Homo sapiens: one gene and its partners. The protein of the gene in region 2 interacts with the protein of the main gene of each other region in a pairwise test. Each region holds a gene or a part of one and is shown on either strand. Other genes may lie near its edges.

The links.
Region 1: the proteins of TMEM45A (region 2) and ERMP1 interact in binary tests that used the Homo sapiens proteins (3 or more experiments, as listed by UniProt).
Region 3: the proteins of TMEM45A (region 2) and PLN interact in binary tests that used the Homo sapiens proteins (3 or more experiments, as listed by UniProt).
Region 4: the proteins of TMEM45A (region 2) and TMEM19 interact in binary tests that used the Homo sapiens proteins (3 or more experiments, as listed by UniProt).

Annotation. Positions count from the first base shown.
Region 1 is NC_000009.12:5,795,103-5,802,131, forward strand, and holds part of ERMP1 (endoplasmic reticulum metallopeptidase 1), read right to left. Parts: intron 6,227-7,029; coding exon 6,074-6,226; intron 3,907-6,073; coding exon 3,704-3,906; intron 2,831-3,703; coding exon 2,715-2,830; intron 1-2,714. UniProt on the Homo sapiens protein: Within the ovary, required for the organization of somatic cells and oocytes into discrete follicular structures.
Region 2 is NC_000003.12:100,551,596-100,558,624, reverse strand, and holds part of TMEM45A (transmembrane protein 45A), read right to left. Parts: intron 4,260-7,029; exon of another isoform or gene 4,170-4,259; intron 3,417-4,169; coding exon of another isoform or gene 3,414-3,416; coding exon 3,224-3,413; intron 1,866-3,223; coding exon 1,653-1,865; intron 221-1,652; coding exon 36-220; intron 1-35.
Region 3 is NC_000006.12:118,543,810-118,551,317, reverse strand, and holds the start of PLN (phospholamban), read right to left. Parts: upstream 3,023-7,508; 5' UTR 2,926-3,022; intron 1-2,925. UniProt on the Homo sapiens protein: Reversibly inhibits the activity of ATP2A2/SERCA2 in cardiac sarcoplasmic reticulum by decreasing the apparent affinity of the ATPase for Ca(2+).
Region 4 is NC_000012.12:71,682,108-71,689,081, forward strand, and holds the start of TMEM19 (transmembrane protein 19), read left to right. Parts: upstream 1-3,974; 5' UTR 3,975-4,573; coding exon 4,574-4,703; intron 4,704-6,974.

The DNA of each region.
Region 1 (7,029 bases), on a different chromosome or scaffold from region 2:
ATTAATGTCATCTATTACATCAAAAGGCTAAGAAAGAAAAATCACATGCCCATATCAATATATGCAGGAAAAGCAACTGACAAAATCCAAGACCTATTCATGATAAAAACTCTCAGTAAGCTAGGAATAGAGGGAACTTCCTCAGTCTCATAAAAAACATCTACCAAAAAACGTATAGCTAACAACATACTCAGTGGTAAGAAACCAGAAGCTTGCCTAGATCAGGAACAAGGCAAAGATGTCCCCTCTCACAACGCCTTGTCAAAATCAAACTAGAAGTCCCAGATAATGTAACAAGTCAAGAAGTGGAAATAAAAATTATAGATATTAGGAAGGAGGAAATAAAACTGTCTGCAGATGATAAGATTGTCTATTCATAGAATCTTAAAAGAATAGGCTGGGCGCGGTGGCTCACGCCTGTAATCCCAGCACTTTGAGAGGCTGAGGCAGGCGGATCACAAGGTCAGGAGTTTGAGACCAGCCTGGCCAACGTGGTGAAACCCTGTCTCTACTAAAATTACAAAAATTAGCCAGGTGTGGTGGCGGGTGCCTGTATTCCCAGCTACTTGGGAGGCTGAGGCGGGAGAATCACTTGAACCCAGGAGGCAGAGGTTGCCGTGAGCCGAGATCGTACCACTGCACTCCAGCCTAGGTGACAGAGTGAGACTGTCTCAAAAAAGAAAAAGAAAAAGAAAAGAAAATCTTCTTAAAGAATAAACCAAACAAAAACAAAAACAAAAACAAAAACAAATCTCCTAGATCTAATAAGTGATTATAGCAAGGCTGCAGGATATGAGGGTAATAATCTGAAACTCAGTTGCTTTCCTGTAGACCATCAATGAACAATACCATTTATTAATACATTAGCACCCCCAAAAATAACTACTTAAAAATAAATCTAACAAAATATATATAAGGATTCTATAAGGAAAACTACAGAACTGATGAAAGAAATCAAACAAGATAAAAATAAATGGAGGGATATTCCAACACGGATAGGAAAAGCCATTATTGTTAAAATATCATTTCTTCCCACCTTGATCTACAGACTCAATACAATCCCAATCAGAACTCCAACAAGTTATTTTGTGAATATTGACAAACTGATTCTAAAGTTTACATGGAAAGGCAAAAGACAAAACACAATTCTGGAGAAGAAGAGTTGGAAGACTGATACTACCCAACTTCAAAACTTAACTATATAATTACAGTGATCATGACAGTTGTGGTATGGGCAAAAGAACAGAGAAATCAGTCAATGGAAAGAACAGTTTGGCAGTTTCTTACAAAGCTAAACATAGGCTTACCATATATAATATCCAGCAATCACACTCCTAAGCATTTACCCAAATGAGTTCAAAAACCTGCCCAGGAATCTTTATAGCAGCCTTATTCAAATATGGATAACTGCTGTACATCTACACAACGGACTATTCAGCAATAAAAAGAAATGGCCTATCAAGTCACAAAAAGATATGGAGGATCCCTTAAATGCATACTTCTAAGTGAAAGAAGTCAGTCGAAAAAGGCTACATACTCTGTGCTTCCAGCTATATGATACCTGGAAAAGGCAAAGCTACAGAGATAATAAAAAGACCAATGGTTGCTAAGGAGAGTGGGAAGAAAAGAGAGATAAATAGGTGAAGCACAGGGCATTTCTAGATGGTAAATCTATTCTGTATGATACTGTAATGGTAGATACATGGCATCACACATTTTTCAATACCCATAGAACTACACAACACGAAGAATGAACCCGAGTGGGAACAACAGGCTTCGATTAATAATAATATATCAGTGTTAAAACTGGTGCATCAGTTTTAACAAATGCACCATACTAATGCAAGACATTAATAGAGGAAAATCGGGGGGCAGGATATGAGAACTCTATAATTTCTACTTAATTTTTCTGTAAACTTAACATTGCTCCAAAAAATAAAAATAATTTTTATTTTTGAGACAGGGTCTTGCTCTGTCACCCAGGTTGGAATGCAGTGGTGCTATCAGCCTTGACCTCCTGGGCTCAAGTGATTCTCCCAGCTCAGCCTCTCAAGTTCTCAAGTAGCTAAGACTACAGGCATGCACCAACATGCCCAGCTAATTTTTTTTTTTTTAATTTTGTAGAGACGGGATGTCACTATGTTGCCCTGGCTGGTCTTGAACTCCTGGGCTCAAGCAATCCTCCTACCTCAGCCTCCTGAGTAGCAAGCATAAGCCACCATGCCTGGCCTATTAAATTTTTGTTAAGAAGTCATAACCAGCTTTGGCCGGGCGTGGTGGCTCATACCTGTAATCCCAGCACTTTGGGAGGCCGAGGCAGGCAGACCATGAGGTCAGGAGTTCAAGACCAGCCTGACCAACATGGTGAAACCCTGTCTCTACTAAAAATACAAAAATTAGCCAGGCATGGTGGCACACACCTGTAATCCCAAATACTCAGGAGGCTGAGGCAGGAGAATCACTTGAACCCAGGAGGCGGAGGTTGCAGTGAGCCGAGATCGTACCACTGCACTCTAGCCTGGGCGACAGAGCGAGACTCCATCTCAAAAAAAAAAAAAAAAGAAGTCATAACCAGCTTCAATTGATTTTAGAAACATCACAGGCTCTTCCTAAGTTGCTGGTTCCTGTGATATATCTGAGGGAAAAACATACATGCCACTTATTAACAAGTTTAAGAAATAAAGGAGGGGAGAAAAAACTATTATATGACTTACCTGTTGCTTCAAAAGTCAATTTTATAGAATCCCAAGGTGTCTGTTCTTTGGATATGAGTCGGAAATGAGGAGGATTTCTTGGAGAAACTTCTGGGGCAGGAAGATACCAGTTTTTCCTATTTAGAAAGGAAGCTTCAGTTTTAGGGTGCTTTATTATTTGATGGCTATCTGTAACTCACAGAACTGTTCAGCATATATGAACACATTTTTGGGTATGAAAATAAACTGACAGACATGATAAGCAATGCCAACTCCAACAAATTTAGGTTATTTTGTAATAAAACCTTCCCAATGTTAAGAACAAAGGAGTAACCTAGGTGATCTTGATTCCACCACCCATCCTATTTCTTCTCATCCAGTCCTTCACTGCCAAGCTATAAAATCTTCCCAGAGAAAACAATTTTTTTTTTTCTTTGAGAGACAGAGTTTTGCTGTTGTTGCCCAGGCTGGAGTGAAATGGCGCGATATCGGCTCACCGCAACCTCCACCTCCCGGGTTCAAGCAATTCCCCTGCCTCAGCCTCCCGAGTACCTGGGATTACAGGCATGCACCACCATGCCCGGCTAATTTTATATTTTTAGTAGAGACACGGTTTCTCCAGGTTTGTCAGGCTGGTCTCGAACTCCCGACCTCAGGTGATCCACCCGCCTCGGCCTCCCAAAGTGCTGGGATTACAGGCATGAGCCACCGTGCCCGGCCACAATTTTTGAGATAGATGCTTATTGGCTATTATATTAGTTAGAAGGGCCACCTTTTCTAACCACTCAGGTTTCTAGAGAAAAGATTTTTAAAATTTGAAAAAACAAAACTACTCTTCTGAGTGCTTTATTCCACTAAAAAAAAAAAAAAAGTTTCATAATGATAGAAAAAATAGTACAAACACCACTGAACTTGTATATTAAAGGATGGCAGTTTAAATGATAAGAGTACTGATATGGTGACAAGACTTGAGAACAAACTAACCTTAAGCAGAAAAATAATGAACCAACCTGATCAGAAAGTGCACTGGAAGATACCAAGGAAAACCACAAAGAGGTGCATTCTCCTCACAGTGAGCTCGGATACTATCATTGATCTCAGGAATGTGAGGGGTTATGTGAGAAATTCCAGTATAATCAAACCCATTGATCCATATTCCAGAGTCCCGTTTAACTGCATTTCCTTCCAAGTCATGGAATGTTCTAGTCATATGCTGAAAAAAAAAGACTAGTGAAAAAACTGTTTCAACTAGTACACCCACATTCCCACCCCAGATTACAAAAATGGAGTATGACAATACCAAGAAATGATGTGGATATGGAGCAAGTGAATAAGACACTGAGAGTTTCTAAGGTACTGCTAGCGTTCTTTATTTTAAACTGGAAAATAGATATATAGATTATTGTTTTATTGTATCTTCCAAATATATTTAGGATTCCTATAAAATGTTTTTGAAACTTACTATTTCAGACTTAAAAGACGTTAATGTTAGAGCTGCTTTTAGATAAGGATTTAAAACAAATACATCCTAAGCACATATATACATACACACTCATTTCCCTATTAGTGTTTTATGAAGCTAATTCATGTGCAGAGAAAAGTGGGAATTGCAGCTCACCACTAGATGACAGCCTTGTGCCTAACAGAATTCTATGAAAAGGCACCGTGCTCCATTTGAAATAACTTTATTCACGGCAGAAACCAGCCTGAAGAATACCAATCAGGAAAAAAACAAACAAAAAAAAACACTGCATAGGGCAGGAGCCGGCAAACTGCAGCCAACAGGGCAAACTGTCCACTGACTGTTTTTATATACGAACCATTATTTGAACATGGCCACACTCATTTGTTTGGGTATACTCTGTTGCTGCTTTCGCTCTGTTTCACTGCAACAGACTGTATTGCTGACAAAGCCCAAAATATTATCTTGTCCTTTACAGGAAAAGTTTGCCAACTTCTGGCACAGTGGAAGAGAACCCCCAAACAAATCAGAAAATGACTTTTTAAAAATAAAAATCCTGCTTTTCCTAAGTATTACTGACATAATTATAAAACTTAATACATCATGAAAAACACACTGAACCTCCTAAAAAAAAATCCGTTCTTCACTAAAGGTTTTACAAATTGTAAAATCTCACATAAAATTTATCACAGTGTCCTTCAGGACTATAACAAGGAATTGTTATTTGGCCCCTTTTCAAAACCTCCTAAGTGTTTTTAATTTTTTAAGTCCTTGAATAATTATCTAGGTATAATTCCTCTGGCATTTCTGTTTGGCTAGATTAGGTTAGATGTGACTCTTGCCCTTAAGGGTATATGTTATCTTGAAGCAGGATCTTTCACTTACAGAGTATAAAATACAAATAAGAATTATGCAAAATATACAATATGTTAGTATGTGTTCACAAACATGAGAAAGGGATGGGTATAAGGCATAAGATAATTTGTGTAGTATGAGAACTTTTAAAAACAATTTAGAAAAACTAACAATTTAGCCATCTCTAACAGAGATGACTAGAATTGAGGCTTACTGCTTTATAGTACCAGGTCTAAAAAATTTGAAGAAAAAGTTGAGATCTAAAATAAGTCCTCAAACTGGCCAGGTGTGGTGGCTCACACCTGTAATCCCAAGCACTTTGGGAGGCCGAGGTGGGTGGATCACCTGAGGTCAGGAATTCAAGAACAGCCTGGCCAACGTAGTGAAACCCTGTCTCCACTAAAAATACAAAAATTAGCCAGGCGTGGTGGCGAGCGCCTGTAATACCAGCTACTTGGGAGTCTGAGGCAGGAGAATCACTTGAACCGAGGGGGCAGAGGTTGCAGTGAGCCAAGATCGTTCCACTGCACTCCAGCCTGGGCAACAGACCAAGACTCCATTTTAAAAAAAGAGAAAAGAAAGTAAGTCCTAAAACTCACTTTATTAAACCCTTTCTAAGTTATAGTTTCACTATCACATATCACTTTGAATGTTACTTAAGATTAATTTTACTAGCACTTCTAAACATCAATTTTATTTTGCCAGTTGACAGTTTAGATTTTACTCAGCCTGTATACATTTTTACAATCTATATTTCTAAAAACTCATTATTCCATAATAAATATTTGCTCCTGTTTTTCCAAATAGATGCAGTTTTATAATTTGAATAGTAATAAAAACAAGCAAACATTTCCAATTCAGTCTCCTGGGAGATATATGTCTAGCTGATAAGAATGCCTCTTGACAGTCAGTCTTCTCCTCACTGCCTTACACACAAAAAAGGTGAGTATGACTAAATAGGTCAACAGCAGAAAAGTCAGCTGCGCTTGCTATTCACTACTGAAGCTCAAAACACACAGGGCTTCCTTTCCAGATCTCAAATACCTCATGCAAAACTGCTCACCTGAAGAAACACTCTCTTTGGCTTCGGATTAGCAGGATTGGAGCTATATGGAAAAAATGTTCCACTGCAAACAAGGAGGAATGTAATTGCACATACCAAAGTTAAAGTTAGCATGGTTTTTTTTGTGCTCTTGGCAAGGTAGATGAAGTTAATCTGAAACACAAACCACAAACACAGAAATATTACAAATTCATTCTAGTGGTGGAAAGGTGTTTTTAACTAACTTTATTTTTAACAGTATTACCTAACAGCCCCTGAAGAAAATTTATCAGCAGGTGCTAGCATACTCTAACATCTAGTAAACAAAGCACTAACTCTAGGAGATTTCCATTGCAGGTGAGAACCTAGAAAATGACAGATGCCTCCAATCTGCCATGATGGTGCCACCTTTTTGGCATGCAGCCAAAAACCAAGAGGGAAAAAGGAAACTCAGGACTGTCGCTGTCCTTAATGTGCGAAAAGAACAGAAATGTAGATGTAATGGATTATTCATTAAATAACCAGAGATAAGCTTTAAGCTTAGGCAGATCTGTTTGGACAAAACTCAAATTCCACTCATAATGCTTTAAAATATGTCAAAATACTAAATTCATCTCAACTGGCATAGAGATGTACCTTCAAGACTCTGCCAGTGGACCTGCATAAGAGGAAAAACTGCATTACAAAGTAATATTATCCCTCTAAGTGACAAATTAACCAATGCCAACACAATCAAAACAATAAATCTAGGCAGTAAATGTAAATGACTCAGTCTCAAGGTTGGCATCTAGAAAATCCTAAATATTTTCAATCGTAATGAAATCGCTGAACTAAAAACTGTAAAGGACACACACGACTCACAGAGTATGTCCACAGATCCCTTACAGGGTCTGAAGAAGCCATTTGGGGAAACTTTTATGTGAAATCTGAAATTGTTCTAAGAAGCCACATTTTAAATATTGTGAATACTGAGAGAA
Region 2 (7,029 bases):
GAGTCCAGGTACATTAACTAGAGGCCCCAACTCACCTGAAAGAACCAGCTCCCCTGAAGCAGAATGAGACTTGACCGCAATAGCTCCAGAAGTACATTGTTCCGAACAAGGAACTCTAGGAAGGCAACGAGGCCTGTCAGAAAGACGACCAAAACCAGCAGCTGGTGCACAAAGATGTCCAGCATTTCCCGGCCATGAGTGTGGTTGTAGAAGATAAAGGCTGATGGGGAAAAAACAGATTGTCTTTTTCAGTGGAACCAAGGACCACCCACTGTTTCTCTCTCTCCCTCTCTCCGTAGACAGAATTTTACACATACACACATTTGTCCAAAAGAGCAGGCGCCCACTGATTCCCACAGTACTGCATTTTTGGAGACATCACCACCTCATTAGAATAGGATCTTTGAAATTGAACCCTCTTTTTGCTTTCCCTGACCTTTATTCTCTCTCTAACACATTGTGACATTTTCAATGAATGGATTCTCATTATCTCAGGGTGTTAACTGTATTTTTGAATGAATATCTTTTCCTCTTTATCTAAATGAAAAGGATTAAGACGAAGTTGGAATCTCCATAAGATGAAAATATTTCAAAGCATCTTCTAAGCAGGACAAACAACAGTAAGCATGGCAAGTGCAATAATTCAGATGAGCACACAGATGAATAAGTCAAAGCATCGCCTTAAGGAATTCAGTCCACTGGAGGAAGCAAACACATACGGGTGGATTTTGACAGATATAACAACATGCTCTGGAAGCTCCCAAGAAGTAGTAAATAACTGCATTTCTTCATCCTGTAGACAGATTCCAGCTTCATCTTTTTCATGAAGACAAAGAGAAAAGATTGATACAAAAATACGGTAACCCCCTGAGATAATGAGAACCGGGCTATTAGTTGTTGACATCCATCTTTTATCCAGCCCTTGTTCCCGAGGTATGGGCAAAAGTTCTCATCTTTGGATGCCAGAGGCAAGGTGAGTAGGAAGTGACTGCCTCCTGATCAATTTGTGGTTATCTATTTCCATAATCAATCTATTTTTTACGTGTGTAATACATGAAAAAAAAAAAACCATTAAATGCTTGTTTTCTTTTTTCCTCCCTACAGTAACTGGGAGACCAGCTGAACAAAAAATATTGTTTTTAATTAACTTTCCAAAATTAGGACCCCATATTTTTTATGTGACTGCATTTTTTGGACCCTACTTATCATCAAATGGCAGAGTATTACTGTATCAATATGAAAAAGCCTGTTAGTAGATAGTGGAAGCTGTTCCACTGTGAGTGGCTGCCTCATTTTAGTGTATTCATGCTTTATTATTCTGGGATCAGTTTTCGTTTGTTAAAAGTGAAAAAAAATGATAATCTTCAGAACAACCCAGAGATGAGTAACCTTTGTAAGTGGTCCTTTGAGACAGATGTGAAATGTGAACATAGCAATTGAACAATTGTGTTTACCCAGTTCTACTAAATGAGTCAGTACAGCATGTAGATTTTTGGCGCCCTGCCTAGGACACCCAAATATTTCATTATGGCCCAGATATATGGTCCTATCAATCAAGGCTGCAACAAGATGCCAGAGGTATATTAATATGAAGGGCTACATAAATGCTCACTAATAGAGAAAGGTACATGAAAATACTCACTAACACTTACCCTCCACAAATAAGGCATTTGACAACATTAACTTGGTTAAGGACACAGGAAGTGAACTGATGGTGAAACATAAGATATCTGCCACACCCAACAGCCCAAAGAAGAAATACATGGTGAAATGATGCCAGCCCAGGAGTTGATTCCAGTGACCTTGTTTATAGTCATATAACATCAGATGGGGCCCTCCAGGAATAAACTGCTCCCCAGCCATGCCTGCCAAGAAACATATCACAGTTTTAGCAACTCTGCTTTACATAGAATTCAAGAAGATGCAGGAGGACTAGTCCATTGCTTATTCCAATCTAATGTCCTCTTTTGACATTAATTCTTCTCTCTGAGCTGTTCCCTAACAGCTGAGCACTGGCACTTTAGGCTTCTTTTGGAGGTTCAGATGCTGGTTCAAATAAATAGTTTTAGTCAAAGATAGCCAATTGAATCAAACAGCTATTTCAGATCTTCAATGCCAATGATCTTAGTTCCACTGCCTATTCCAATCTAATGACTGAGATACATCCTGAATTATTTGGAGATTTGAATTTGGGAGACAACTCCTATGGAGATAGATTACTTCCTTCTTAAATACTACATCTTTGGGTAGCTGCCATAAAATAGGGGATTGTGCTTGGTACCAGATAAAAATGCTAAAGAGTTCAGCTTTTCTCCAATTATGATAACTGAGAAAGCCCAGACAGGACTGGGCACAGTGGCTCACACCTATAATCCCAACACTTCGGGAGGCCGAGGCAGGCAGATCACTGGAGGTCAGGAGTTCGCAACCAGCCTGGCCAACATGGTGGAACCCCATCTCTACTAAACATACAAAAATTAGCCGGGTGTGGTGGTAGGTGCTTGTAATCCTAGCTACTTGGGAGCTGAGGCACAACTGCTTGAACCCCAGAGGCAGAGGTTGCAGTGAGCCAAGATAATGCCACTGCACTCCAGCCTGGCCAATAGACCGAGACTCCATCTCAAAAGAAAAAAGGAAAAAAGAAAGCCCAGACAGATACAGCAGACGATCTAGTCTGGTATGCAAACAGTTAAACTTTCCTACAGATACTGCCTTATTTGTTAATCTATAGAATTTGGCAAGGAAATTTCCCTCTTTGGAAATGTTACTGTGTAATTTGATGCCATAGCAAAGACCTGTTGCCATGAATAAAGCATGAAGAAATCTAATGGGAAAACTGGAAATTTTATCTTTTATAATGGAGAGGCTAGAGTGGAACTCTCAAGAACACAGAACATTTTCATTGAATCTTCATATGGAAGATTCAGTGGAAAGGCCTTAGAAGTCATCTGGCCTAATCTCTTTCTCCAATTTAGGAACCAAGAAAAAAAGATGAGTGCAGAAGGCTAAAGTCTTCTACAGCCTATCAGAAATTATTTATTACTGAAGCTTTTCCATAATAACTTGATTAATTTCATATCATTTGCAAAATGGTTTTTGATAGGGTTTATTCTTTCAGAGATCAGAACAATTGATATAAAATTATTTCAGAAGCTCCAACCAATTCTTTAAAAGAATGAAAACACCTAAAAGGTAAAAATAGAACACAGAATGGTCCACTCACCAGTTAAAGCCATGCCAACTATTGTAATTCCCTCCAAAATTTCCAATCGATAGAATAATGTTTTGGAACCAAGATAGCAGGTTCGCTTTTGCTTTTTGCAGATATACTTCAGAATACTCTTTGTACACCACCAAAGACCAATAATAAAAAAGAAGGTTCCAGGGAGGGCATGACCTCTGAAATTCCCCATGATCTACAAATATAAGAACACACAGAAAGTAAAAGACATTTCATTGCCAGAATCTGGACAAAACATCACTTGTTTCCATAAAGTACACTGTCTTCTGATTATTATGGATACATCACTGAGGATGATTCTGAGGATCCTACATTACTGTGCATACTAGTAAATACCAGTACAATATCATAATACCAATAAAAACAAAATAAAAACTCACATTTGTTGAATACTTACCATGTACTCTGCACTGTGTCAAGTGTTTTATGTTCAGTCTTCAACCTAATTTATGCAACATACCCATGAATGAAGCACTGTTACCCCTTTTTCTTTAGGGATCCTCATTTAGAGAGGTTAGACCACTTGCCCAAATCTCACAAATATTAAGCAAAAGTTCCATTATTTTTAACACAGAAATGAAAAGGATTTCTTCACATCCACAGTATATACTTCGCCATACAGTGGCCCTTCAGGCCTATCTGAAGGAAAGTGATATGAAAGTTTTATCTTTATGTTTAAAACTTGAAATGATGTGAAATTGCCTACACATTCTTTTAGGTTGATAATTTCAAAATATCAAGCATCAAGTGTATGGAAGAAACAATTAGTGTTCATCAAATATCTGTGTGCTGCTCCCCACTCTTTCCCAGCCTCTCCCTCCAGTTAGATTGGGCCCATGTTTTTAGTTCTGGCTAATACACTATAAGTTGAACTAGCACATGTCACTTTCCAAGCAGGGTCAGTTAGCAGTCTACACAACTCCTTTACCTCTCTCTTATCTTGCCTGGGCAACCTTGGTGTGGCATATCTGCAACCCAGAAGGTGATCAACCAGCCTGCTTCAGATTTTGTAAGAAACAATCCCTTATTGTGCTAAGGCAATGAAACTTTGAGATTTACTGTTAAAACACCTTAGCCCCACCTAGCCAGATATCAAGCCAAATCAAATTGCAAACTTTGTTTACATTATTGCCACATAGTGGAGTCACTTCTGGTTAATAAACAGTAATACCCTCCATTTTTGGTCCCTGCTATTAAAAAAAAAAAAAAGAATTATGTGAGTTTTTAATTACGTGAGTAGCCCTTTGTTGAAACATATCATACCATCAACAGAATAATGAAAAGAGAGTCCAGAATCACCCTTGTGGATCTGACACTAGGCCAGGTCCAAGGAAACTCATGAAAGGAGATTTCAGGATTTCCCCTGGCCCAGCAGATTTATTTTATCTCTAGGTGATAATGGGCTGCTCAGTTCAGGACAGACCCTTTTGAGTTACTTCCATCCCTCTGATACAACTGTGAAACTCAGGGGGAAACCTGGAAGCTGACCCAAACACTAAAAGTCTCTTATATCTCAGTGGTGACCCCAGGCAGTCATTTCAGGACACCATTGAATCGTCCAAACCATCCAAGAGTCTCAGACTCAATATATCACATAGTGCTATGTGCAGGTCCTTGTCCTAACTATACCTGTAATGGTGTGTTTGCGTCATGTTTCTTAACCTTTCTAAGCCTTGGATCTTAATTAATAAAAGAAGGAGGCAAGCCTAGATGAAACCTGGAGTTCTTTCCTGCCCTAAAAGTCTTTGATTTATTATCTTAACCACCACCTTTATCACAGTGTTGCTGAGTTCTGTTTTGGTTTAGGCAATCATATGGGATCGAGAAAACTTCTATATGGGATTGAAAAGTATATACAGACTGCAAATTTTTTGAACTTTTCTGAAAATGGGTTGTATTTGGTTTAAGAAGTCTTAAACATTTTATATTTCTTAGTACAGGAAGCCCACTTGCAGGGATTTATCTTGCAAATATAAATGGAAATACAAGCACTAGGAGAATGTCAAATAAATTACGCAGCCACTGAAAATAAGGTTTTCAAATAACTTAAATGATAGGGAACATATTTAGTTAAAAAAATAGGATTAAAAATTAGGGGAAGGGGCTTTGAATTTGGATTATCTAAGTCCGAATACCAACTTTATAATTTGTTAGTTACATAACTTTGGGCAAGTTACTTAACCCCTCAGTGCCGCAGTTTTCTCTTCTGTAAAATGGGACAAATAACAGTACCTACATCATAAATTTAAAATGAATTACTCCAAAGCAAATAACCCACAGTACTGTTAAATAAGCTCATGCTATCTTCAACCTACCTCTAACTACCAGAGTAAAACAAAAGTAAAACCAAATGAACAATTTTACTTAGATACTAAGATGGATATAGAAAATCAAGAAACATTGATACAATTCATTTGGCAATCATTGATGTAGTGCCCAAGACACTTCTCTTGCTGTTGTCTTAGAGGGTTACTGGGATAATCTGTGGTTATTGAACTCCTTGACTGCAATTAGAGAATAAACTCCTTGAAAGCAGAGGCCATATATCCATTCTTCTTTCTATTCCCCACTGGCTATCCACTGCCTTACATACTATGAGGTTCTAAATTTACAAGGAGTTACTAAGCTCTTCTCATAACACAAGATCATATATTTGCAAAACATCTCTACTCTGATGTCTCAAAGGCCACTCACACTCAAAATACCCCAAAACTGAACTAATCATCTTATCAACCCACCTACTGCCAGAAAATAATTTTAGTTATCCTAAAAGAATCCCTGGTTACCTAGTTTGGTTAACAACACTGCCAATTCACCCCTTTGCCCAAACCCAAAATATGAACATCATCCTAGAGTTTGGCTCTTTCCTTAAAAAACAATTGGTAATTGAGATTTATCACCTCTGTTGTCTAACATTGATCCCCTCTAGGGGTAGGAGATCACCTGCTTGGAGAAATCCTTCCTGATGGCCCAAATAGGGGAGGGTCCCTATTACACCCTTTCAAGGCACCCAGTCCTCACATTAGTGACTTCTTTGCATGATTAGTTATTGAAGGTCTGTCCTCCTCAATAGCCTCTATGACCATTACCATATTATGAAAGCCTGTGCAACTGACTATGGGGGCACCTCAGAGGTTAAATGCCTGGGCCTTCTCCACTTTTTTTTTAAGGCTGTTAGTATATTAAAAAAGAAAGAAAATGCCAAAACAGAGTCACAAAAATTTTGGTTGCTTTTAAATATTTAGAATTACCTAATAAATACTTTAAACATACAAGCAAACATATTGCCTATGTCATAGATATGATGAAATTTTAAAATCCAGGCCTTCCCTGAATGTACAGCTCTAGGCCAAATAGCCCTCCTGACCCACCCCTATGACAAGCTAAGAGGCTCCTGCTGCCCCCAAAGCTGAGAGGATCAGTATATCTCAGCACATCCATCAGGATGTAATAAGGAGGCAATGGGGAATAGTGGAGGGTTTGTGAAGAAGAATATGAGCTGATCAAAGTGGGGAAAGAAAGGAGTCCTCCTTCCTACTTCAGTTATACAACTCCTGTGTCTTCAGCCTTTTAATCTGAAACAATCTGATGGTTCCAATCTTTCTGTTTAAAGATCCAAACAAAATGAAGTCAAAGTATAAGGGTTGTTAACATTTGTCTGGCTAAGGAACCCAACAGATACAGTTACTCCTGGCAATAAAAACATCATTCATCTTATTTCATTTTCATTGTGAAAGAAAACATTGTCCATATCCTCAAACGTTACTTCACTCTCATCTCCTAGAAAC
Region 3 (7,508 bases), on a different chromosome or scaffold from region 2:
GGTTGAAAACTAAAGATGGAGTACCTTTTCAAAGGCACTAGAGGTCCTCAGTTGACTATGAGTATGCTGTACATCCAGGCTTCATTTTCATGTGTTTATTTGGTAACACATGCTTCAGAATTACTCTGGGTAAGAACTTTGAAATTGTACAAAGAGACTACTTGATTCTAGGGAACCTAGAATAAAGTATCGAAATGTGATTTTTGTGAAAGTTTTGAGGAGATGTTAACTTGGATTTTAGGTATCAGATGAATTGAAGGCATGAGTATTTTAGCAATGAAACAAATAAAAGGAAACTTTGATTGATTGGGGTGTGTTATTTTTTTTAAAGTCTGTGCAGTTAGTTTGAATTTTGCCTTCCAGGAGGTATTGCTTAATAACTAAGGGCATCTGTAATTTTCGTATATTTCTGGTTTTGAAAATGATCAGTAGAATATAATTTAGACTATTAAGAATGTAATGCTATGCATAAATTGAATTTAAATGGAGTGGAATGGCTTTTAATTAAAATAGAAGTTTGTATTCTCTGAATTTGCCTTTTGCCTTTTAGAATATCATTTACAGTATTTGGGGGCTTTCAAATTTTGTTTGTCAGTGTCATGGTTTACTTTAAGCCATGCTGATCAGTATATAGAGGATGTGCATGTGGCTTAGTGACAAAACCTAAACTTCTGCCAAGGTTTCCCTGTTTTCTTAGTTCTGTGATCTTGAGCAGTTCACCTTTTTGCATCTTTCCTAAATTGTAGAATAGGGATGCAGTATCAAATATATAATTAAGAGGACCAAATGAAATATTTGTGTACACGAGTATATTAGGAAATTGCTCTTTAAGAATAAAAAAGAAGTGTTCATTGGCCCTCCTCATTTCTGGGATTGGTAATATATTGTCTAATTTGGAGAGGTAACTAGACTTTAGGTTTTTTAATTAAAAATTTAATATATTACATAATTTAGTGTACATGTGTAATGAGTACATTAAAACATTAAAATACATTAAAATTTTCTGAAACTATTGTATTTATGCAATATTTTATTATTTCTTAATCTCACTAATTAAAGATATGATTATATACCCAAATGTGATCATTTTCCTTTATGCCTACTAAAATACAAATAAAATGGATTTGATATTTGAGTTTTAGGAAATGATAGTGCTGTCACGCCTTTTAGTAAAGCAAGTACTCTGGCTCTTTCATGCGTTTTTAAAACTTAATGCTTCTTAATTTAAACATCTTTCATATTTTTTCCATTTGATTTCATCTAACACTTTTTTTAGCACTTACTTTGAAACCACATGTCTTCATAAACAAAGATAATACTTAACTTGCACCTTAAGGTATAGATGAACTAGTTGGGACACAATGTATGGTACTACCACATTATATTTGAAATTTTAGCAGTCTCTGTAACTGTAATTTCTGTTAACTGAGACATACTAGTGAGCTAAGGGTAAGTTTAATATAATTTCTGCTCTATCCAGAAGTATGTGTACTTTTTAGAGTAATATGTGATATAGCAAAATTCTGATACAATAAAATAACTCGTGAACACCCAATTTGAAGTGTGAGAATGTAATTTGATAGATATTTGAATAAAAATGCACAAATAACATAAGACACCTACACTGAATGACTTTTATGTACTATCAAAGGAAAAATATGAGTATAGAGATATGGAGACACAATTAGGATACCTCAGTGGTAGACAAAAATTATGTTTTTTTATGTCTTAAGGAAAGCTGCTTACAGAGTTACAAAGTTCTTATTTGTAGTGAGCAATAGAATTAACATTTGTCATAGGAATTGAGAATTTTAGAGATAAATTTTATTTTAACATATATATGAAATATGAAAATCAAAATAAATAAAATATATGTAATTTTCTGTATGCCCTGACAGAGATCTAAGAATGAGGAAACGTTTCATTTACTAAATTGAGGATTGTAACATAAAGAATAGGGTAGAATTCAAACAGAAGTCATAAAATTGATTGTGGCATCTCCATTCCTGGCATTTATTTTATTTTTTCCTTTCTTTCTAAATCCGAGAGAGGAAATGGAGTACCACTGGAGGATAATAACTTGACAAAACTATAGGCATTAATAGGCAGAAATCCATTTAATCAAATTTGTGTGAAAATAAGATAGTTAAGAATATTCGTGTGTCAAAATAACTTTTTAAAGTATCAAATTATTCTCTAACGTCAGATTTTTTGTGTTTGTGAACATTGTTTTAAAATTTCTAAACTTCTTTATGATACAATATTGAATTTAATATCAGTAACTCAATTTATTAATAGCATGGAATTTTTTTAGAAATGTTTGTTAAAAGTTGACTGGACTTTAGAGGGGAAACATCCTCAAGGGCACTTTAAAAGTAGCTTGTATTATATATTCTGAAACTCCATTTCATTATTCACTGTATGAAATTATGATAATATTGGAATAGGCATGCTGATAATGTGCATGTTGTAGTCAAATGACTATTCATATTAGTTCAGATGTAAATAGCTCAGTTCTGCACTGTTTCTCAGCAGAGCAATAAATAACAAAATTAAGTCATTGTTTTTGCATGGAGAAATTAACCACTACTACCAAATATGGTAACATAATTGGAAGATTTTTTAATTGGCAGAAATTCACATTTGAAAAGCAAAATAAAAGTGAAAGATAAATTTAAATGACAAACCAGTAACCAGGATCAAAGATGAATATGACCTTTTTCATTTCAAAGTTGTCTCATTTTTCCTGTCACTAAATGGATAAGCATTTATAAATTTAAGCACTTTGTCATGTCATTTTATTGCCTAAGATTGAACTGATATTCATAAAATTAACTCATTTTAAAAGTTCAGATTATAGAAATTATAGGAATTAAGAATTATAGAAAGTAAGAATTACCAAAGTCAGCGAAATCTGTTTCTTACCTTGGCAGCTGTGATCATCACAGTATAGAGTATTGTGTTGTATGAAGTCTTACGGGTGTTTAGCTGGGGAGTTTTCTGACTCTGTCACCCAGTTTATGGGAACAGTTGCAGTAGGTGGAGGAGAAAAAGTGTTCTAGGGAGGTCTTATGATGTCACATAGGAATTCTGAAGTTTCGATTGGTTAGCCACAGTCTCAGTCTTATCACAACCAAACTTTAGAACTTCTTACTTTAGGTATGGAAAAGTCATTAACACTTTGTGCTTCATCTTTTGTTTTTAATTTAAAACAGTATATGGTAGATAAATGAAAAAAATAAGTAAACTTGAGGTGGTGGAAAGCTTTTGTTAAAGATTCATGCATCTTCAGGCTTAGAGATAATTGAATATTAATGGTGAAGATGTTGAAGAGCTAAAATAGTTACTGCAGGAATTTTAATTATGAGAAAAATAAACACAGGTATAAGCAAAACAACTTTCATTGAATTCTTGCTGCTGTTGCTTTAATACGTGTCTTCATAATGTTAGCTTTTAGTGAAAGTGAAATATTTTTACACAATAAAATTTTATACCTGTTTTCTTATTTTGTTCTTGTTCTTGTGTGTATGGGAGAAGGAGTATGAGAAAATCAGGCTAATTGCTTTTTGTTTTAAAAAATTATTTTTATCTTACAGTTAAAGAACTAATAAATGTATTTAATTCATTTGTGTTTTCTTCAATTAGCAGTTTAACAATATATTTGTGAATAGTAATACTTATATTTAAACTGATACATACAACACCCCCAAAATAGCAATATGCTACTTTAAGTATTTAAGATTTTTTAAAAACAATTGCATTAAATTATTACACAATCTTACCAAATTTTTAATAAACTGATGCAGTATTAAGGGCAACTTTATGGCAAAAAAGAAATAATTACAGATTCCAAATCAGTTACATCTCAGTTAATGAGGCTTTATAGGTTTGATGTGTTGAAATTTAAGTTTTGTAATGTTTTTGAAAGGATGTGCCTCATTTAATCTAGCAGTTGCTTTCCTGAAAATTACTATAAAAATGAGATGCTAGTAAGTGAGATGATATTTTGAACTTCCTAGAACAGTTTATCTTACAGTAGAACTGGGGAAATAATTTTTTTGTAAAGCCGGGCATCATTCTCCTCTTCTCTGTTTATCTAATTTGTTGTCTTAGATGTTAGATTTACTTAAGTCACCACACTCGAAAATATTAATTCTTAAATCTCTTCTTTAATTTTAGAGGAGGTACTTGTAATTTTTAATTTTTTAAATGCTTATGACAGAGTGAACTTAGCCCACTTCACTTTCTTATGGGTAACTAAAATGTGTAGCAGCAGCTGCTTACATGCCCTTAAATGGAAATGATCTTGGCTTCTTCCAAAGAAAGAAAATCCATCTCTAGAGCAAATCATTTGATATTTAAAGAGTCAGCTTAAAACTAACTGAAAAATAATATTTTAGCAAAGATATCCTGTGAACATTGCCAAGGGAAAATTTACAACTTAAAAGTAAAACCCAAGTTAAGGAAATTGCAGAATAATGTTTGATACTTTTCTCAGTGCTACAACCATTTTTCTTTCAATCCTTACATAATGAGGATCTCTCAGTACTATCAGTTACCAATGATGATTGATAATACAAAACCGAGAAGCCTAACGAGGTTTACAGTAATTTGTCAGAGATAACCAGCTGCTAAAGAATAGACAGGATTCAAATCCAGATCTGTCTGTTTATAATTCCTAATCTGTTGGCATGCTGTGGGAAAAAATTATAATTTGAATATAGCTTTCATTAGAGTAGCATATAGTAACTGAGAAATTTTTAAGATGTAAATAGATGCATTCTTGAGCACTGTTAATAGTTTTAGAAAGTCTGCTTTAAGTTTGTCTACCAGTTACACATTCATTTGAAATTTAGGTGATAGATCATTGTTCTGAGAACTTCTCATTCTAAGAAAATAGAATTAGTAATACTTAGTTGGATAAACCAAGAAGCTGCCGTAGACAGAATAAAATATGCCCTAGTTACCACATGTTTATAAGTTTACTTAAAAAGTATACATAGGCATATACACACCTTAGAAGGATACTAACAACTGTGTGTGACACAGTTGGAAAATGGATTCAAAAATTTACTTTTTAGATTGGTACAAGAGTGGGGAGTTTTTGTGTTTACCTTGTTCCTTTGGGTTAGCTAGTGAAGATGACGATGATGGTGATGATCTCATGTGGAACTCTAGGAAGTATTAGATTTTAGTTTTAACTGAACATTGTTTTTAATTGCCCAAACAGAAAGTTGTTTAATAGGAGTATTAATGAGTTATAGTGTTATCAGTAGAGTGTTCCTCAATGATTCCTCAGCTAGAGGCTAGAAAATTTTTTTGAGGTGCTTTGTCACAGTCTTCATTTGGAGTTACACTATAGTTTGAATGTATTTTTGGTCACATGGCTTTATACAAATAACTTTCCTAAGCAGCCTAATCTGTGGAATAGTATTTGTGATGGTTTAATGACATGAAGTGTACATAGTGATTATCAGAGATCCTGCAACAGTGTTCATTTAGTGTTAGCACTTATTTTCTTTTTTCCTTTAGAAGGTGGATTCTTAAGGGTAAAGTGTCTTTGAACTTGGATGGGAAAATAATTACAAATTTATTTTTACTAAGCTCTAAATGAAATTTAGTATTCAGTTTCAACTGAATCATGAGTTCATGTCTTTACTTTTGTTTTTATATAGTTTTGTAGCATTTTAAATGTGTTCCTCAAAAGTATTACTAATTTTTTTTGGAAGGGGGTGCGGAGTCTCACTCTGTTACTCAGCCCCGAGTGAATGGTGCGATCTCAGCTCACTGCAACCTCTCCCTCTCGGGTTCAAGCGATTCTCCTGCCTCAGCCTCCCAAGTAGCTGAGACTACAGGCGTGTGCCACCACGCCCAGCTAACTTTTGTATTTTTAGTAGAGATGGGGTTTCACCATATTGCCCAGGCTGGTCTCAAACTCCTGACCTCGTGATCTGCCCACCTCGGCCTCCCAAAGTGCTGGGATTACAGGCGTGAGCCACCGCGCCCAGCTATATTACTAACGTTTTGTGAAGGGCACTGTGATGTATGTAGTAATCTTTTACATTGAGCATTTAAACTCCAGTCTGTAGTGGTGTATCCGGAGGGCGAAGAAGCTTCAAAATAGAATCGGTTTTTGGAAATTTTTGACCAGAAGTTAATATAAGTGATGACTAAATTAAAGCATTTTAATATTTAGACAGAGATACAGTAAAATGCAAGCTTTGAATCAATTTTTGTAATGTTCACAATACATCAAAGATAAGGAGCTTTTTTTAGATTAGATCTCCTAGACACCCAGGAAGAAGATTTTACCTATCTCTTGAGGGTACTTGAGGGTTTGATAATTACTGCCTTAAATTTTAAAGCTACGTAGGGAAGGACTGGTTCAAAAAACATCTAAGCAAAACTGCGAATAAGAATTAGTGGTCTGAGATTGAGAGGATGGAAATTCTCTCCATAGGGCAATAGGGAAAAGAAAATAAGATTTACTCATCAACTGGAGTTGGGGGGCTGTTGATATAACCCAGTGATAAAGTAACCTATAAAGCTTAGGGGTCATTTGGGGGAGGTAGGTTCACTTTTCACTTGATTTGCCAGATAACCTGGAGACCCAAACATTTTATTTTTTCATAAATATCTGAATTCTGGGCAAATTCTCTTTCCTCATCTTGATGAGGGGTGGAGAAGAGCATTGACATTAAGAGAGGCCAGATGGATTAAGAAAAGGACTCATATAGGTCTACATAAATTTTGGAAAGTTATTAAACATTCTAAGTGATAGAAATGCTATAGCATGCTACGTGGCTTCAAGGAAATTATGGTTTATCAGTATACAAATAATATGGAAATGAAAATTTAACATTTAGAAGGTAACCACTAGTGCAAGATAACACCAGGAGAAAAAGAAATTCCCAATTGAGAGTCAAATGAGCACGTGTAATAATAAGCAGTATGACTTCTAAGAGAAGTGCATGTTTTGTACAAAGGAAACGGACAGAACCAAAGCCAAAAATAACAAAGGGAAACACATACATCACAAAACAAATTTAACAACAAAAACCAACCCTTAGGTCTCCAAATACTTGCTTCAAAATTCTATAGGGTCCCGATCATGATGCTGTTACATTGTTAAGAAGGTTCTATTTCAATTTAATGATTGTAGTATTTCTCCAGACATATTAAATTTCTTATCTTTGTGGTTGATATCTCAGCCCTTTGAGCTCCTCGCATTCGCAAACTTTGTGGTGGCACTATCACTGATTTTGATACAAAATTGAAATTGGAGGCTCATACCTTTTCTGTCTTCTGCCAGACTCCCCATTCACTTAGAAACCAAATGCAGATTGTGAAATATGTCTTTGTTCTCATAGCCTGACCAACTCTCCTCTTAACTTTCATAGACGTTTATTAACTAGTTTTTCTACCCTTCGTTGTGACTCTTTCCTACTCAGTTTTTACTCTGATATCCAAGTGCACATTTGATTGTCATTCACATGCTGAGAACTTTT
Region 4 (6,974 bases), on a different chromosome or scaffold from region 2:
CAAGGTTACTGGAAAACAGTATTCCATTTCTTTATTCCTGCCCTCAATTGCTCCCCACCCTCTCCCTAAGGCCCTTTTAGAATGAGCTCAACCTAATACAACAAATCCATCTTCAAATTGCTCCCTAGTCTTTTAAAATCTATACTACAAACATTTAAAAAACAAAATATTCGGGTTTAATGTCAAGAAGGCATATACTGGTTGGATGCAGTGGCTCACACCTGTAATCCCAACACTTTGGAAGGCCAAGGCAAGAGGATCACTTATAGCCAGGAGTTTGGGACCAGTCTGGACAACACAGTGAGACCTCACCTCTATTTTTATATTAAAAATTTTTTAAAAGAGGTGTCTATTTCTCAGATGAATTTTCAGTTTAATAAATTATTTAGCAAACACTCCAAAATGTGTTATTTCTAACTCTTCTCCATTCTCTTGAACTTCCTATTTTCATGTTCTTTTTAACCACCAAACAAACCTTTACAAATTGCCCTTGTTTAGCTTAGTCACTGAGCAAACTCTTTGTCATCTTTCAATTCTTACCTTGGATGCTCCCCTCTCTTGTGTGACACCATCCCTAAACATACCAGAGTGACATAAGTGCTTTTCTCCTTGAGTCCTGTTTATATATGACTTGGATAAAGTCATCATCTTTTTATAATGTAATTGTCTACATGTCCATTTTCATCTGCTATGCTCCTTCACCACACATACACATGTGGTGTATGTGTGTTGGCACTCAAATCACTCAAATATTCGCACATTTCAGAAAATCTAAACCAATCCCTTTGAATTAGATTCAAAGGGATTGTAAATAAAATCTGATAATTTCCTATCACACAGTAAGTGCTTTTTGACATTAGGATAATTTTTGTGATTGGTATTGAATATAAATGTCTATCATAGAAAAATCCAAACTTTATATCAAAGAGCACTTAACCATAAATGGGTATTTATATTGTGAAATTTAAAGATCAGCGCAACAATGAACTTTCAGTTTATTCTATGATTGCTATAGTAAGTCTCAAACTGCATGTTTTCTACAGGAAATAAATCTGATGAAGACAATTAACTGTTGGAACCATTTAAACAAATGTGTTTGTTTCTTAACTTCTTAGAGTCATTAATAATACACTCTAACTATCCCATGTAGAGACAACATTTCTCAACCTTAAATTTGATCACAGGTATCTTTTGAGTGGTAGGGATGCCTACTAATAACAAAGAATAACTACTATTAAGTTAAAAAATATAGTTTAGGAAATGCCTAACCAGAAATTTTCCATTGCCAGAAAATGGCTTCCAAAGTAAATAGAAAAACAAAGACTTTGTTGAAATTTTTAAGATTGATAGTCTATAAAAATTGTAACAGTAAAATCGTGATTTTTTAAAAGTATACAAGAGCCCCTCCCACTCCCTTTATCCTTGGAGATACATTCCAACACCCTCAGTGGATGTTTGAAACCCTGGAAAATACCAAACCCTATATATACTATTTTTTTCCAATTCCTATATACCTATGATAAAGCTTAATGTATAAATTAGGCACCGTAAGAGATTAGGAGGAATACCTAATAATAAAATAGAACAATTATAACAATATATTGTAATAGAACTAAAATAAGGGCACTGTGATACTGCAACAGTCCATCTGATAACTGCAATGGCTCCTAAGTGACTAACAAGAGAGTAATGTCTATTGCATGGATGGATATGCTAGATAAACGGAGGATTCACGTCCCAGGTGGGATGGAGCTGGATGGCATGAGATTTCATCATGCTACTTTGGCATGCAATTTAAAACTTATGAATATTTCTGGAATTTTCTTTTTAATATTTTCGGATTGTTACCGGTGGAAGGTGTCCAGGTTCTTGGTGTTTTGAACAAAGAACTGGAAAAACACACAAGCAAAGCAAGGAAAGAATGAAGCAACAAAAGCAGAGATTTACTGAAAACAAAAGTACGCGCCACAGGGTGGGAACCATCTGAGCATAGGGGCTCAAGGGCCTCCTTACAGAATTTTCTAGGGTTTAAATACCCTCTAGAGGTTTCCCATTGGTTACTTGGTGTACACCTTATGTAAATGTAAATGAAGTACTAGCCCACAATCAGTCTGATTGGTTGTGAAAAACAACCAATTAGAGGCTGAAGCAAAGTTACAAAGTTACACTCCTACGCAAACGTCTGATTGGTTGCAGAAAGCTACCAAGCAGAGATACTTTCAATTTTCTATCTGCCACGCAGAAAAAAAGAGGGGTTTGCAAAGGGCGTAGCTTTGGGTCCTTTTGTTACTTAGGTATGGGAAGTTGGGGTTTTCCTTTTGATTTAGCTCTAGGAAGTCAGCATGAATCGGCCTTAGGTTCCCTGCCTCAATAGGAGACCCTATTCTCCTGCCTCAAGATCATGTTTAACCCTTGGTAACTGAAACTGCCTATTGCATATAAGAACTACTGTATTTTAATTATATTAACTCCTCTAAATTATTTTGGTCTTAAGCTAGAATAACTTTTATGGAGAAAAACATCTATAATTGGTCACTGAAAAAAATAGAAGGGAAAATATTCATCTAAAGGGTCAGTTCACTGACACTACTATTTAATATGCATTTTTTAGCCAGATCTAATAGTCATGAGAAAATCATCCCTGACATCCAGGGACTGACCTGACACAGCTACACCACAGTGTTGGGAGATAGCTTGACATTCACAACTAGGCTATGATTTTCCTATCGAACACCAACTAATCAGAGAGGGTCACTCTGTGACTGTGGTGAAGCAAGGCAAAAAAAAGAAAAAAAAAAAAAAGACCAGTTTATAATTTTGTCTAAGCAGAGACAAAAACAATGCGACTGTGCAAACCACAAAACATTAGCTTTCATTATTAATAATTTTACCCAGTAGTCTGGTAACATTGATACTGGCCAGTCAGCTTGGTGAAATAATCCAAACATTTACCTATGCAGAACAGACTAAGACAAAAATAAAGTAGGCACATAATACATTTCAGCATAAAGACCATATATGTATATTATCTAGTACAGGAAGCCCACTACTATTTAGTCCTACTTCACAGATTTGATTCTTAGTTAACTACTTAATTAGATGTCTTACCAAAGAAAATGACAAGCTGTCTTGGCATGTATTTTGAAATTTAAAATAATGTGAGCTTTTTTAAAGTAACTACTCTTGGGGCTTAAAACACAATTGCATACTGTGTCTGAAATGGATTTGGCTCCTCTTCTTACACTGTCAGCAATTAACTGAAAAAATTGATAAATATTATGTAATTATCAGTTAATTACTGTTAACCCAGGCAAACAAGTTAATTTCACATAAAACATGAAATCAGGCCGGGCGCTGTAGCTCACGCCATTAAACCCAGCACTTTGGGAGGCCGAGGTGGGTGGATCCCCTGAGGTCAAGAGTTCGAGACCAGCCGGGCCAACATGGCAAAACCCCGTCTCTACTAAAAATATAAAAATTAGCCGGGCGTGGTTGTGGCGCCTGTAATCCCAGCTACTCCGGAGGCTGGAGCAGGAGAATCGCTTAGAACCTGGGAGGCGGTGGTTGCAGTGAGCAGAGATCGTGCCACTGCACTCCAGCCTGGGCGGCAGAGAGAGACACTGTCTCGAAAAAAAAAAAAAGAAAAGAAAAGAAATCAGCCACGATTCAGATTTTTAATGCTAACAAGACGTTTTGCTTTCTAAATGCACACACCTTTAATATAAGGGGTGTGAGGACAGATATTTCCACAATCTAAGTGGTGTTATGACAATAATTACGAGAGCTCAGTAATAGAAACTATGTTTAACTTTACCTCGCTAGCAGCCAGGAGTCTAGCACATTATAGGTACTAAACAATGTTGTTTAGTACCTATAATGTGGTTTTGGAGAAGCAGTGCAAACGCAGCCGGCCAGGATGCCAGCAGTGCCTGCCCACGTGAGCTAGGCGACATCCCCCTAAGCGGCTGCGGCGCATGCCCACAGCGGGCGAGGCGCTAGAGGCGGGGGCGCCGGGAGGCGCGGGCTTTGCTCCTGGGGTCTCGGCCTTGGCCGGCTGGACCTGACCCTAGGGCGGCTTGCGCAGCTGTCGGGACGTGACTGCGTTCAGCCGCGTCGGGCGTGCTTCCCAGACTTGCCCAAGTTCGGGTGCCCTAGCTGCCCCTTTGCAGCCGCTGGCCTACCCGGCCCGCGGGTGAGAAGGTTGCGACGGGAGGTGGGTGGAACTCGCCAGCGCCGGGACCGCGGATTGGCTGCCTCGGCTTTCTCTTTTCCCCGTGGGCTCCGGCGTGAGGCGCTGAAGCGGCCGGCAGCCGGCGACCGGCCCTCACCGTCCGCCGGGTTGCGCTCTGCTTTTGCGGTGAGGCGTTGACCACGCCCATATGAATTGGAGCTCTCCGCCAGTAGGAGTTTCCGGAAGGAGTTTGAATTTTTGTGATTTTTATGCTTGTTTGGTCGGTGGAATATGTTGGGATTTATGTTTGCCTCTGAACAAGTGTCTTGCTCACATCGTAAATGACTTTCTCTCCGAAACGCTAAATATTCTTTCCCGCAGGAGCTCATATCCTTATTTTCCATGACAGATCTTAACGACAATATATGCAAAAGATATATAAAGATGATAACTAATATAGTTATACTGAGCCTGATCATTTGCATTTCGTTAGCTTTCTGGATTATATCAATGACTGCAAGCACCTATTATGGTAAGTCTGAGTGTTCTAAGTTGTTTCTCTGTAATCTAGTCAGAGGAAATTAAAACCATACCATTGTGAAATCCAAAACTCATATCCTCTGAATGGTTATGAATGGTTGTGTTTACTTAACTTCCATAGCCTGATTTAACTTACTAACATGATAGTATAAACAATGCCTTTAATAAATGCTTGTTGTGATAATTCGAGTTATACCTATTTCTTTTTTTTTTTAATTTTTATTTTGTATAAGATAGGGGTCCCTCTGTGTTGCTAGGCTGGTCTCAAACCCCTAGGCTCAAGTGATCCTCCCACCTGTGTCTCCCAAAGTGCTGGCAATACAGGCCACCACTTCTGGACTAGTTACACCTATTTCAAAATGTCTTTATATTTTATGTAACTATTCCATCTGTCTTGGTAAAAGATAAGTGAGGCGAATATAGCTTTGTAAAGCAATTACAGTGATGCTTTTAATTTTGAATAAGAATATTAGTAATGGGCCAGGCGCGGTGGCTCACGCCTGTTATCCCAGCACTTTGGGAGGCCGAGGCGGGCAAATAACCTGAGGTCGGGAGTTCAAGACCAGCCTGGCCAACACGGTGAAACCCCAGCTCTACTAAAACTAGAAAAAAGCTGTAATCCCAGCTACTTGGGAGATGGAGGCAGGAGAATCACTTGAACCCTGGAGGCGGAGGTTGCAGTGAACCAAGATTGAGCCACTGCACTCCAGCCTGGGCCACAGAGCGAGAATCCGTCTCAAAAAAAAAAAAGTAGTAATGTAGTTTATCAGTTTCACATGTTCTGTAAAAATAATAAGAATTAAAAACGGTATACTATTTACATTTGGAGAGCTGAAGGACTTATCTGCCATTTGGTTGCTTCAAAAGAATAGACTCCTTTTAAAGCCTAAAGCTACATTGCTTAAATATAAGGTACTCTGGACTCAGATCTTTAAAGTTTTAAAGGTGCTTTAGAGCATAAGCCTCCATTTACACAAACTTCCTTCTCCTATGAAAACAAAATACTGGTCAGTTTGCAACAAAGGAAAAATGAAAAGGAGAATGAGAATGCTTGTATCGTAAGGGATTGCCATTTCAGACTGTAGGCTTTTTGCAAAGAGACATGTGAATAGTTGGAAAGGGTTCTCCAGGCTACAGAAGCTCTCAGTGCAGTTCGTTCATAATGATTCACAGTGGGGCATCAGAGTTTTAGGGGAGGGGTGTAAGAAAAGATTCTTGTTAGTGACAGTATTTACTATGACTTGAACTAAATGGAATAAATCAGGATTTGTAAACTGAAATATCCCTCTGGGGCCAGTCACCTAATGCAAATGAATCTGTGTACGTTTTTGTGTATTAGACCTGTGGTAATAGTTTTCATTTCCAGAAATAGGATATTTCTCATCTTTTGTTGAATGCTTGGGCCCTCTTTGTCTTTCATTTCCCCTTTATTTTTCTGAGACGGAGTTTCGCTCTTTTTGCCCAGGCTGGAGTACAGTGGCACGATCTCAGCTCACTGCAACCTCTGCCTTCTGGTTTCTCCTGCCTCAGCCTCCCAAGTAGCTGGGATTACAGGTGCCTGCCACCATGCCTGGCTAATTTTTGTATTTGTAGTAGAGACAGGGTTTCATCATGTTGGCCAGGCTGGGTCTCGAACTCCTGACCTCAGGATCCTCCTGCCTTGGCCTCCCAAAGTGCTGGGATTACAGGCATGAGCCACTGCGCCCGGCCCATTTTCTCATTTTTGATAGAAACATAGATACAAGCAGTGGTTCACAGTTTTCTTTACCATAAGGAAATCACTTTGCCTTGGCGTTTAGGAGCCTATCAGGAGGGGTGGGAACTTTAAATGGGAAAGCCACGGCCTGTTTAAAGGAGGGCACCTCTCTTTACCTTAAGTCAATTCTGCCATGTTGGCCAGAACTTCCCAATTTTAAAACAGAAGCCAAGAATCTGGATTTTTATATGATATCTCCTAATCTTTAAATATTGACTAAAATTATTTGAAAACACTCTGCTAGCCAAACATCTGTGAGCTGGATGCAGCCTCTGGAATAATCAATTTCTAACCATTGAATGAGGTGTCTGTCCTCTGACAGGCAGAGAGGAGTAAGATCCTGTTACAAAAAGAGTTCGTTCTAGGTAGTCCTTGAAATTTAATACGTGCCCCCTTTAAAAAAAATGAACCAGAGGTTCATTTTAAATATCTAGATATCCATTATTATCATAAATAGCAGTAAAAGGTTTTCAAAACTTGGACATAACCTATTTGGCCATTCTCCAG